2 linked regions of the Homo sapiens genome follow. The protein of the gene in region 2 purifies or fractionates together with the protein of the main gene of each other region. This does not show direct contact. Each region holds a gene or a part of one and is shown on either strand. Other genes may lie near its edges.

Region 1 (7,034 bases), on a different chromosome or scaffold from region 2:
CGAGAAGGTGGGAGGTTAGAGGGTCAGCCAGGGAGCTCCTCTGTTGGGAAATGGGGCTGCACAAACATGAAGAACATGGACAACTAGATTTGGGGAAGGGTCTGAGGCTGATGCAGGAAAACCAGGCTCACCAAGGGAGTGCTGGCTCTGAGCTGACATTTAGTTAATGTTCTTTGTCTACTCTCTGGGAATTGAGTGGCTTCTGCTTTTTTCTTCCCTTCCCTTTCATTTTTCCTTCCCTTCCCTTTCATTTTTCCTCTCCCTCTCTCCCTTCCTCTTTCCTTTTTCTTCTTCCTCCTCTGCCTCCTCCTTTCTCTCTCTCATTTTCTTTTTAAAACAAATGACACTTTCAATTTCTCTCCAATGAAGCAGAAAGTTCCCAAGCATTGTGTTTGCTCCCAGCTGTGTGTCAAAGGCAATTCATCAACTCTGAGCCTGCTTCTTTGGAGCAGCTGCAGCAGAGGAGCTGTCCCTGCTTCTCCCACCCACAGGCGGTATTTAACTGTGGGCCCAGGTGGAATACTTGTTCCCTCAGAAAATGGGCCACTCTGAGCTCAGAAGAAACCTAGCAATGGCTCAACTAATGCGTCACTGTGTAATAAGACACCTATGCCCTGTCAGATTTCAGTCATGTGGTCATGTGGTTTGGTTTGGCATTCTGCACAGTCCCTTGAGATCACTGTTTCTTCCTATATCCTCCAGAAGTCGCTGCACTTCAGCCTTTCTCAATGGATGGCTCCGCAGCCTGTGGTTAAGGCCTCACAGGCCTGGAAGCTACTTGATGTCCACGTGACTTGTATAAAGGCAACTTCACTTAAGCCTCATAATCACAGAAGACTGAGCCCAGAGAATCTAAGGTTTAGAGCTGGCATACGTTCCCGTTCACATGTAGTTCGGTGGGTGCATTTCTCAGGACAAAGTACCGACAGATGCAAGAAGGAAGAACAGTTGTCTTGATAAGGATACAGGAAAAAAATGTTTTCTAAATTTCACAGGTTGATCAAGTCAAAATATCCCCTTAAAATCTATTATATAGTCTTAAAGAACTGTAACAGTTTTAAATTGTACCTGTTATTTTCTAAAACAAAAAAGAAACAAATGTTACTTAAACCTAAAACATGAAAGGTAATAAGCTGTTCATGATTGCCACATTACATCTTTCCAGGAAAAGAAAATAATAAAAGGGAAGAATAGAACAAGTCATTGGAATCATTGAGGGAGTGTTGTTCAATAGAAATATAATGCAAGCCACATATGTCATTTTCAGTTTTCTAGTAATCACATTAAAAAGGTAAAAATAAATTAGACTAAATTAGTTTTAATACATTTTATTTAACAAAAATATCCAAACAGTATCATCATTTTGGTATGTAATTAATATTTTAAAACCATTAATGACATAGTTTACCTTCTTTTTTTTTTTGTACCAACTCTTCAAAATCTGGTATGTATTTTACACTTAGAACACCTCTCAATCCAGAAGCTAAATTTTCAGCTGTTTAAGTAAACTGGGCTGGGCGCAGTGGCTCACGCCTGTAATCCCAGCACTTTGGGAGGCCGAGGCGGGTGGATCACGAGGTCAGGAGATCGAGACCATCCTGGCTAACACGGTGAAACCACGTCTCTAGTAAAAATACAAAAAATTAGCCGGGCATGGTGGCGGGCTCCTGTAGTCCCAGCTACTCAGGAGGCTGAGGCAGGAGACTGGCATGAACCCAGGAGGCGGAGCTTACAGTGAGCTCAGATTGCACCACTGCACTCCAGCCTGGGCGACAGAGCAAGGCTCCATAAAAAAAAAAAAAAAGTAAACTGTCGTCCTACCAAAACAATGAACTTGTTTCATGGAAAAAATATATATATTTCACACAGCTTCAACATTTAAAATTAAATTAATTAAAGTTAGAGCATTAACTCAGCACCTCTATCACTCTAGTTCCTCTCAAGTGCTCGATAAGAGTTTCCCTTCCACTGGATGAGACACGAGAGAAGCTCAGACTCCGTAATCTGAAGAGAGAGTGGCTGGGGATATATGTTTGTTGTTCTCAGAAGAACTGAAGATTGAACATAGACTTGTTCTACAAATCCTGGGATGCTTTCACAAGGGGGAATCCCTTGAATGTTGAAAGAGATTGTTTTAGGGCAAAATAGAGGAAGTACTGCTTTACCTGGCAGGCAAGAAGGAGGCAACTCCTCAGGTTGCTCCAGTCAAGCCCAAATCAATAGGTTCCGGACAAAAGTAATGGAGCACAGATCCATGGGTAGACTAGGGAAGATGGGAGTGGCCAAAGGTGCATCCTGTGTTGTAGAAGTTGTTCACGGAGGACGGAAGGTGCCTGGGGGGCCTTTCTCAGAGCAGCATGTCTGGGAGGAAGCCTGGCCACAGCTGGACGAGTGTGAGGCAGGAGAATGCCTGTCAGGAGCTGTCATTCATCCTCCCCAAAAGGAACCCCTTAGGGCCACTCTTGGGTTCCCAGAACCTTCACTGCAGACTGACTCTTTCCCCCAGCTTATTTGGTCCTGTGTTTCCCACCAGCACTCGGAGTGCTGTGCAGAAGGCATCCAAGGCTGACACTCTGGGGACCTGAAGACAGCAGCCTCAGGATTCTCCCATCTGGCCTTTTTTTGTGCCTTTCCAACCTCTGTAAACACAGCTGGAAGCCCCATCCCATCTTTAAGAAATGATCTGAAAGATCTTTTAATCTTACGACATCTTACTTTCCGTCTTGAAAACCGTCCACTAGGCAGGAATAGTGGGGGTGTTGATAAATGGAGCTAGCAAAATGGCCCCAGTGATGGCAGATGGCAGTCCTGACTGGCGATTGGATCCACTTTTGGATGTGATACATCATTTAATGACAGACAGAGTCAGTCCAGGATTTCAGAGGTATCTATGTAAACCAAAGCTGTGCTTCATCCTTATCATGGCATAATAGTCAAGGTGGAATTTTTCTCCTCTGCCATTTCCTTACAGTTATATTGGTAGGAAGAGGATGCAAGTAAAGGAGCCAGAGAAAGCAGTGCCCAATGTGGCAAACCTGGTCGAAGCCGACTATTCCTACTGGACCCTGGGCTACGTCATCTCTCTGGAAGGAGCACAGAAGCTGGTTGGAGCCAATCCTTTTGGGAAGATGCTGCCAGTGGATGAGTTTCTGCCAGTCATGTACAACAAGCATCCCGTGTGAGTCTCCCTGAACTGCCTGCCTTCCCTTGGGCACAGCCTCTTCATGAATTATGCTCTCCATTTCTGGTAGTACTTGATATTTTCTAAAGTTGTACTGCTTTCCTAAATGATCTTCTCATAATTATGATTAAGAGAGCCTAACTCAGGTGATTTATCCCTTTGTACAGATGGGAAGGTGAGGCAGAGATGGTGAGTGTCCTGCCCAGAGATTCTTGTAATATCCAGTTTGTAGTTGAACTGAATGTAATGTGCTTGGTCCCCTCCTTGTCTTTGCTCTTCTTATTTCCATAACCTCATACACCTCAAGGTGAAGGCCATCTTCCTAAGCACCTCAAAATTTCCAGTTCCTTTGGCTCAGGTCATTGGGTACTGTTGGCTAAGCAGAGATACCCATTTTTGCATAGCTCACAATCTGGTCAGGAACCCAGACTCATGAACAAATCATCATGATATATTGTGATTCCTGCAATCGCAGGGGTGTGTAAGAGGTTCAGGGAGTGTGGACCTGATACCTGAGCATGATGTCCATGGAAGAAGGGCAGTGTGATGCTTGGGGCTCCCATAGCCCAGGAGCTTACCCTGACCTAGCGCTTATCAAAAGGTGTGGCAATTAATGATTTACCTGTCAATCTCCCCAATAAACTATAAACCCTTTGGGGCAGTAACAGTCTTATGCCTCTGTGTCCTTAGAGCCTAGTCCAAATGCTACACATAACAGCAGCTCCTAAATCATTAATGAATGATTCCTAAATTCATTGATGGAGCAGCATTCGTTCTAACCTTGGCCCCTTCTCTCAGTTGCTGGGTGATCTCGTCACTAGATGGTCTCATTTTAGCTGTTGAGATTTCCTGTGCTGCCACCAGTTCATTTTGTCTCTTGTCCTCAGTAAAAATGGAGTTGTGTGCCCTCTTGTATATAACATGTCAGAGACTGACTTTATCTCTGTGTCCTAGCAGAAACATGGAGGTCAAACCATTATCCCCTAAACAAAAGGGAAATTACTACATTCAGATGTCACCTCATGTACTCTGCACAGGAGCCCTGAGAGGGAGGCCAAGTCATCCGTCTCCTTTACACCTGTTGGAACCGGAGTGGTGAGCAGGGAGCTAGAGCACAAAGCCAAGCCTGCGTGCCTCTAAGCCTCCACGTGCCACATGCCCCATCACTGCTGTCCAGATGTGAGGTGTCTCATTTATTAATCCCAAAGCAGGGCATTTTTGGTGAAGTGATCGTATTTATTTATCATTATGGTCTAACAGGGCTTACTTTTTAACTTTTGGAGTCAGACCTGAAATTCATCTTTTAAACTAGTCTATTCAAATACGTCAGAAATGTCCTGATCTTTTTGCTTGGGAGCTTGTCTTTGGAAAGCTTTTAAAGAAATATTTGTGTTTGTAGGCTAAAGTTTTTCACAAATGACACAATTGAAATAATGAAATGAACTCATGAGGTAACCAGGAGGCCTCCTTCACTCTTTGTCCCTGTTCCGTAAGTCTCCTTTCCGCCCCCTCATGTGTCCGGCCACCTTCTTGTTTTCAGAGCCGAGTACAAGGAGTATTATGAATCCAGGGACCTGAAAGCCTTCTCTGCAGAACCCTTGCTCATCTACCCTACGCACTACACAGGCCAGCCGGGGTACCTGAGTGACACGGAGACCTCCACCATCTGGGACAATGAGACAGTGGCCACCGACTGGGATAGGACACATGCCTGGAAGTCCCGGAAGCAAAGCCGCATCTACAGCAATGCCAAGAACACAGAGGCCCTGCCACCGCCAACCTCCCTGGACACTGTGCCTTCAAGGGATGAGCTATGAAGGCTCCCTGGGAGTGTGGCCCACATCAGTTCAACATCCTCTGGTTTTTCTAAAGGGCTATTCATCTGTTTGCTCCAGTTTTCTGTTTTGTTTTGTTCTTAGTGGTCACAGTCATCTAACCAAAGTGATCTAGTGTGATAGATCGAAATTAACATATTTTTGACCATGGAAGGAAATAAGGAAATTCAACCCAAATTTCCCAAGACGGCTGAAAGACAGGTTTTTTGGAAACTGTTAAGATAAACTGTAATCCAGACACCTAATTCTTCAGTTCACTACTCATGTGATACTGATTCCCACATTAAGGTTGAACAACATGGCTCAGAGTCTTGTTCAAGAGAAAGTGATCACCGAGCTGTCACATCAGCAAATATGTAGTCAAGGCAGCCAGGCCAACTAGACCACACTTATTGGTCTAGTTTGTCCGTTTTATATGACATTGAAAACTTGTGTGTGCAACTTTTGGGGGACAGGAATCACTTAAAATCATATTTATTTGGCTTTTTATTTAAAGGATTCTGTCACAAGTCTTATTGAAAAGTAGATTTTTTAAAAAAAAAAAATCTTAGTCCCTGTTATCCAGTAGGGGTGGGTATTTGGGTCCGACTGAGACTTGGCCTGTGACCATCATGGCAGTTGGAGTTCTCATATAGAGGTGACCAGTTTGCCATGTGGATATAATTTAGTAGATATTTGACAGTTTGTGTAGGTATTTGAGGGAAAAAACTCAATGTTTGGCTTTTTTATTATGGCCACTCGAGTCAGGATGCTCTATTTATAAAGATAAATGTAATATATAAAGGGTGAGGACTGGCTGTGCATCCTGCCCTGTCCCGGGTTTGCGCGCTGCTACAGAGCTTCACGCTCTCCGCTCCACCCCTTAGCCTGGGAACCCACCGCAGGTGTGAGTTCTGTGAGTCACTGCTAAGAGACAGAGCACATTTTCAGGCCAGCAACTATCCTTGCCAGAGTTTTTTCATTATATTTTGAATTATTTATTTTACAAAATGGGCGAAGATATTGTCTTTAGGATAAGGCAGAGAAACAGATGTTGCAGACTTCCACGGCACCCGGGGGAGTGGTGGGTGTGGACACATTGGTTCGGCAATCTGATTCTCCTGAATTTCCCAGCCAGGCTCTTGTGGGGAGGCCTGTGGATGGGGGGATTTGAACTATTTGGAAACAAATGATTCTCTATCTCAGGTGAGAAACCTGGTCAGAAACAAAGGGCTGGTCACCTGATTTAGGCCAGCAACCAGGGAAGCTCTTAGAATCCCAGGCGGACACCCTTTCTCAAAAGATATCCCCTAAGAGTCCTTTCTGCTTTCTTCACAGATTGATTTTATGTAAAATGCAGAGTTGGACTACACGATTTCTTCCCACTCCACAATCTGTCATCCTAGTATAGATCATGGTGGTTTCCCTCAAGTTTATGTTCTCATGCCCTCAATCTGTAAATTTTTGTCTCCAGAAAAACCCTCCCAGGCATCCCATACCAGCACCGTTCCTCATCACTGTCCATGCACCATGCAGCCATATGGGGGGCCGTGCACACCCCAAACCCTGAGCTTCACACTTAAACTCATGGGGAGGGCCCTTCAGAGCAGAGTCCACAGGCGGGTGGTGCTACATACACAAGCTTAGTGTACGAGTGTAAGATACACTTTAAGCCAGACACCTAATTCTTCAGTTCACTGCCCATGTGATACTGATTGCCACATTAAGGTTGAACAGCATGGCTCAGAGTCTAGAGAAAGTGATCACCAAGCTGTCTCATCACCAAATAGGTAGTCAAGGCAGCCTCATCTCCCCAGGTGAGGGGCGGGTCCCCACTTTAGGACAAGAGGCAGCTTGCCTTCCACCAGACGCCAGCCTCGGCCTTCCTTCCCGACTCACTGTGGGTACCCTTCTACACTGACCAGCAAGCTAGGCCGCTGGAGGAAAGGGAACTCACCCAACTCTAAATTGTGCCGCTTAGACTTAGCTGTCAGTGTGACTTCCTTTCCCACCCACCCCCAGAAAAACAGAAAGAGCAT
Region 2 (5,305 bases):
TATTATCTAAAGAAATAAAAACAAATTTGTTTTTTATCTCATTGGTTTACACAAGGATAAAATTTTATGAATTTTATACTATCTGCATTAACTTTTTAATGCAGAAAACAATTTGGAATGAGACGGAAAATGTGTATTAAATAAATTTTTCCCCTGGGCTCAATAGTCTTGAATATATTAATATAAAAATAAAACAACAAATCTTTGGAAATTACTTCTATAATTCTATCTAGACATCTATGTAACCCATGAATATCACTAAGCTTTAAGTGTCATCATGTTCTGTTGCCTGGATCTATTCTTTGTAAATTTGAGAAAGTCATACACCCTTTCTCAGTCTCAGTTTATGTATCTATGAAATGGAGATAATTATCATTATTTAACAAGGTTATTATAAAAAGTAAATTTAGAAATGTATGTGAAAAGACCTAGCATATTACCTTATACACAAGCACTTAAAAAATTTTCACTGTGTCTGAAACTGTTCCACATAGCAAAAGACAGAGATACCAAATTCCACAATACATTTGTCACATCCATGTGTCCTCAGAGGAAAAATAACCAGAATAAGAATCAGAGGCTCTAGATGCCAGTATTTGCTCTGGCATGATTGTATATGTGATCTCAGTTGCTTCATCTACCTAGAACATAAGCCCTCCCAGGAAGTCAGTCCACAAGAGTATGGAGTTTGGTCTTGTTCACTCGTGTAGGCACCAAAGGAGATTTGCTAAATAAGTAAGTCTAATAATGAAGGAGGTTGCAGTAAGTCATTGATTTAAGGCAGTGGCTCAGGGTGGATACAGGGTGAGAATCCTGTGCGACTTTGAGCACGTACAGTTCCTTATCCTTGCTGATTTTCAGTTTCCTCAACAGTAAAATGACACAATAATGGCATTCAGTTTTTGAAAGTTATTTGAGGATTGCATGGAATAATACATCACATGTATAAGTGTTTCCTGCCACATAAGAAATTCTTAAAAGACTGGACTTAAATTTTCATTATCAGGACCACAACCTTGGTATTCTAACATTCGTGAATTCCCTTACTGCAATTTCTAAAAACATGTGCTTACATGTCAGCACATTAGTCAACTAAATAATTTCTTTCCTTTGCTATTCATGTTGGGATGGCCTTGCTGGTGCTGTAGACATTGGGAGAATTCCCACTCTCAGTTTCCTTTTCCTGGATTGTACAAATTCTGCACTGCTGAAATCTAAATTCACTGAGTAGACCTACAAAATACAATTCGAAAGCATCACAGTAGCCCGGGTTCACAATTCATGGAGCCATTCTCGCACTCTCCAAATTATGACAGAGCCATGGCTTTCACCAAAAGTTTAATTTCTGTTTGTTTATACAATTTATAAATGACAATAAATATAATAGATATAATTTATAAATGTCTCGTACTTCGGCTTCCTCCTGTATTAACATGGGAATAGTCTTACTATTTGTGCAATTGTTTTTATTTGCCTGTATTTTTAAGTAGCCCTTTGAGGCTTTCAAAAAGTTTTTATAGACTTTATATACTTATAAGGAAACACAGATATACAAATACGTATACACATACAAACATGCTCACACATACAATCACAAACACAATAGGAAACATGCCATGCCTAGTAAGATAATTTGGGAACTAAAAAGTGTCCCTGGCAAGGTTTCTGATTTTGAGATCATATTCCTTTTTTCTTTTCCTTCTTCTGCCTTAAAATTTCAAGTAAAAAAGCCTCAATACTGTTATAAACACCTCAAAAAATACTTGGGCTCTCCAACTTACTGTTAACACTCTTACAATTGATCAGCTCAGGAAAACCTTTGCTTTGTCATTTTCTTGCTGTTTGTTTGTGTTTGCAATCAGTAGCATTCTTAATCCATGATTTCCTTACAGGATGGTGTGTAGGCCCTTTGCTGATTAGATTAGTTCTACTTTAATTAAAAACAGATAATGTATTTGATAAACCAGGCACACATAAATTGAAATACACGGGAAGATAACAAAAGGAGGAAGATGCTGATATTAAGTTTTCCTTTTTCCGGTTTATTTTATGTGCAAATATACCCCAAGACCCTTTGACATACAGATACGCTTGGATCATCAGGTTATTACATGTACCCATGATTATTAAGGCTCAAACTTTCTTCTTTATTTTTAGATTAATAATAAAACTAATTTGTCAAATCCTTAAAAAAACATTCTTAATCTCTACTTTTATAGAACTGTGTAGGTAACTTTGTTAGAGCTCTTCTTACTTTGCATTTTAGTAGTTTACATGTTAACAGAGTATAAAGTGTTCTGAAGCAGGAGATTAATTTTTGATTCCTACTAGAGAGCACAGAACTTGCATACAGAAAATAATCAACACTTTTTTGTTTAATTAGTGAAGGAATTAATGGCTTTGCCCCACTCAAAGAGAAACACTAAACTCTAAACTTACTAATGCAGTTATACCTCATTATTGCAGGTACTGGTCCAATATGGCTGAATGAAGTGTTTTGTTTTGGGAGAGAATCATCTATTGAAGAATGTAAAATTCGGCAATGGGGGACAAGAGCCTGTTCACATTCTGAAGATGCTGGAGTCACTTGCACTTTATAATGCATCATATTTTCATTCACAACTATGAAATCGCTGCTCAAAAATGATTTTATTACCTTGTTCCTGTAAAATCCATTTAATCAATATTTAAGAGATTAAGAATATTGCCCAAATAATATTTTAGATTACAGGATTAATATATTGAACACCTTCATGCTTACTATTTTATGTCTATATTTAAATCATTTTAACTTCTATAGGTTTTTAAATGGAATTTTCTAATATAATGACTTATATGCTGAATTGAACATTTTGAAGTTTATAGCTTCCAGATTACAAAGGCCAAGGGTAATAGAAATGCATACCAGTAATTGGCTCCAATTCATAATATGTTCACCAGGAGATTACAATTTTTTGCTCTTCTTGTCTTTGTAATCTATTTAGTTGATTTTAATTACTTTCTGAATAACGGAAGGGATCAGAAGATATCTTTTGTGCCTAGATTGCAAAATCTCCAATCCACACATATTGTTTTAAAATAAGAATGTTATCCAACTATTAAGATATCTCAATGTGCAATAACTTGTGTATTAGATATCAATGTTAATGATATGTCTTGGCCACTATGGACCAGGGAGCTTATTTTTCTTGTCATGTACTGACAACTGTTTAATTGAATCATGAAGTAAATTGAAAGCAGGACATATGAGAAAACTGACCATCAGTATATTTGTCCAGATAATTGGTGGATCAAAAATGCCACTTAACAGGAAGTTTAGTTTGTTATGCACTTTAAATGGAATAATTAGCTTGTTACAATTCTAGGACATGGTGTTTAAAATTTAAATCTGATTAATCCATTTTAACAAACAATGCAAACATCTTCAGTGCAGAAGGAAGAGTGGTTTCAACTGTTTGGAGTCTTTTATGAAGTCAGTCAACATTTACAACCAAAGGGCGGGGGGGGGGGTGGGGGGTGCGTCTTTAGTCCTAAAGGGACAATAACTCTGAGCATGCCCCAAAAAAGTAGTTTAGCAACCTTTTGTTGGTAGTCAACCCATCCCCAGGGCCATAGTGTAGAGTGTGAAAAGCTACCCTGAAACCCAGTAATTCTACCCTGAAAGTGACTGCCTGCAGAAAGACCAGCAGTTGATATTAAAGCGCAAATGAATTCAACCTCAGCCCTGAAAATAACAGAATTCTGAAGTTTCCTATGACTAATTCACAAAAAAAGTAATTGTAAACTAGTACTATTATGGAATTACTCTACTGTTCTTTCTTTAATAGTGGCAAATGAAAGCATAAGCTTAAGCATTTTTTCATATTCTGAAGTCTCACCACACATAATAACCAAGTGGTAGACTCACAGCCGTCCAACTTAAAAAGGCAAAACCTTACCTTGGAATTGGAATTACTGTAAACAGCCTACTGAAAATGCATTTTTATCATGTAACATTCTTCTACTTGTTTAACATTGCTGATTTTCTCTGGCAGCATAATTTTGTGGTTAAGAGAATGAATTCTGAATGTACACTTTCTGTCTCAAACCCTGGCTGTAATTTCAGCTAGTTAATAATTCTTTGTGTTCAGTTCCACTATCTAGGTATTTTCTTCAAAAGGTAAATACAATGGTTTCTGAAAGAATCATTTGCATTATCAGCCTGTTTGGGATGTCTGAGATCAGTGCCTCTGGGTTGTTAATACTGTATTGCTGTATGGTATATGTATGCTGATTTACTACTTATGCGTAAGTGGTATGCATGGGATGTCTGAAATCAGTGCCTATGGGTTGTCAATAGTATTAACTATTAGTGTTAACTGTTAGTATTAACTATTAGTATTATTAACACTAATAATAGTACTATTACTATTACTATTTTTATTTTAAAATAAAATTTACCTTTAAAATAATAATAGTACTATTGCTAGTACTAGTACTATTGCTATTACTAGTACTATTACTAGTACTAGTACTATGACACTGTTAATAGTACTATTAACAACCCATAGGCACTTGGGATGTCTGAGATCAGTGCCTATGGGTTGTTAATACTATATTGCTGTATGGTATATGCATGCTGATTTACCACTTATGCATAGATATATCTTTAATAAGTAATCTAAAAATCCTTTTTGTATTTGAGAGAATCTACTAAGTTCAGTCCAGTCAAGAAAAGAACCTAATAGCACCAATACAAATTGAGGACTTAATTTACTTTGGAATGTTGAATTGCATTTGTTCCATTAAAAAAAACAGAAATTTGCGATTTGGTTTTTTTGAAAAAATAGCTCAGCTGACCAGAATGAATGTATTCTACTTGTTGAGCCATCCAGCATCACGTTAAATGCAAAATGTATATATAAATAAAAGAAGAAGAAAAAAGAAAGACCAAAGGGATGTAGAAAATGAAGAATAACCATTAATATCTAAGGGCCAAACACATTCCACCTAAATTATCTAAATAGTTTCAAATCAAAACTTTCCATTTTTTCAAAACGTATAGACCATAGTAGTTTGTACTTAAGTAAAGCATTACATTAATTTGTAATGTGCCTATTACAAATAATATACAGTTGACCCTTGAACAATGCAGAGGTTGGGAGCACTGATCCCTTCACAGTGAAAAATCCACATATAACTTTTGACTCCCCCAAAACTTAGCCACTGAGAGCCTACTGGTGACCAGAATCCTTACCAATAACATAAATAGTCAATTAACCATTTTTGTATTACTAATAATGTCAACTAACACATTTTATATGCA

The links. The genes of interacting proteins can lie anywhere in the genome.
Region 1: the proteins of MSR1 (region 2) and COLGALT2 purify together in Homo sapiens (affinity purification with mass spectrometry; 2 studies listed by BioGRID and IntAct, with this or other methods). This does not show direct contact.

The regions. Positions count from the first base shown.
Region 1 is NC_000001.11:183,936,725-183,943,758, reverse strand, and holds part of COLGALT2 (procollagen galactosyltransferase 2), read left to right. Parts: intron 1-2,971; coding exon 2,972-3,178; intron 3,179-4,721; coding exon 4,722-4,998; 3' UTR 4,999-7,034. UniProt on the Homo sapiens protein: Beta-galactosyltransferase that transfers beta-galactose to hydroxylysine residues of collagen.
Region 2 is NC_000008.11:16,107,380-16,112,684, reverse strand, and holds the end of MSR1 (macrophage scavenger receptor types I and II isoform type 1), read left to right. Parts: intron 1-2,466; coding exon 2,467-2,600; 3' UTR 2,601-4,804; downstream 4,805-5,305. UniProt on the Homo sapiens protein: Membrane glycoproteins implicated in the pathologic deposition of cholesterol in arterial walls during atherogenesis. Two types of receptor subunits exist.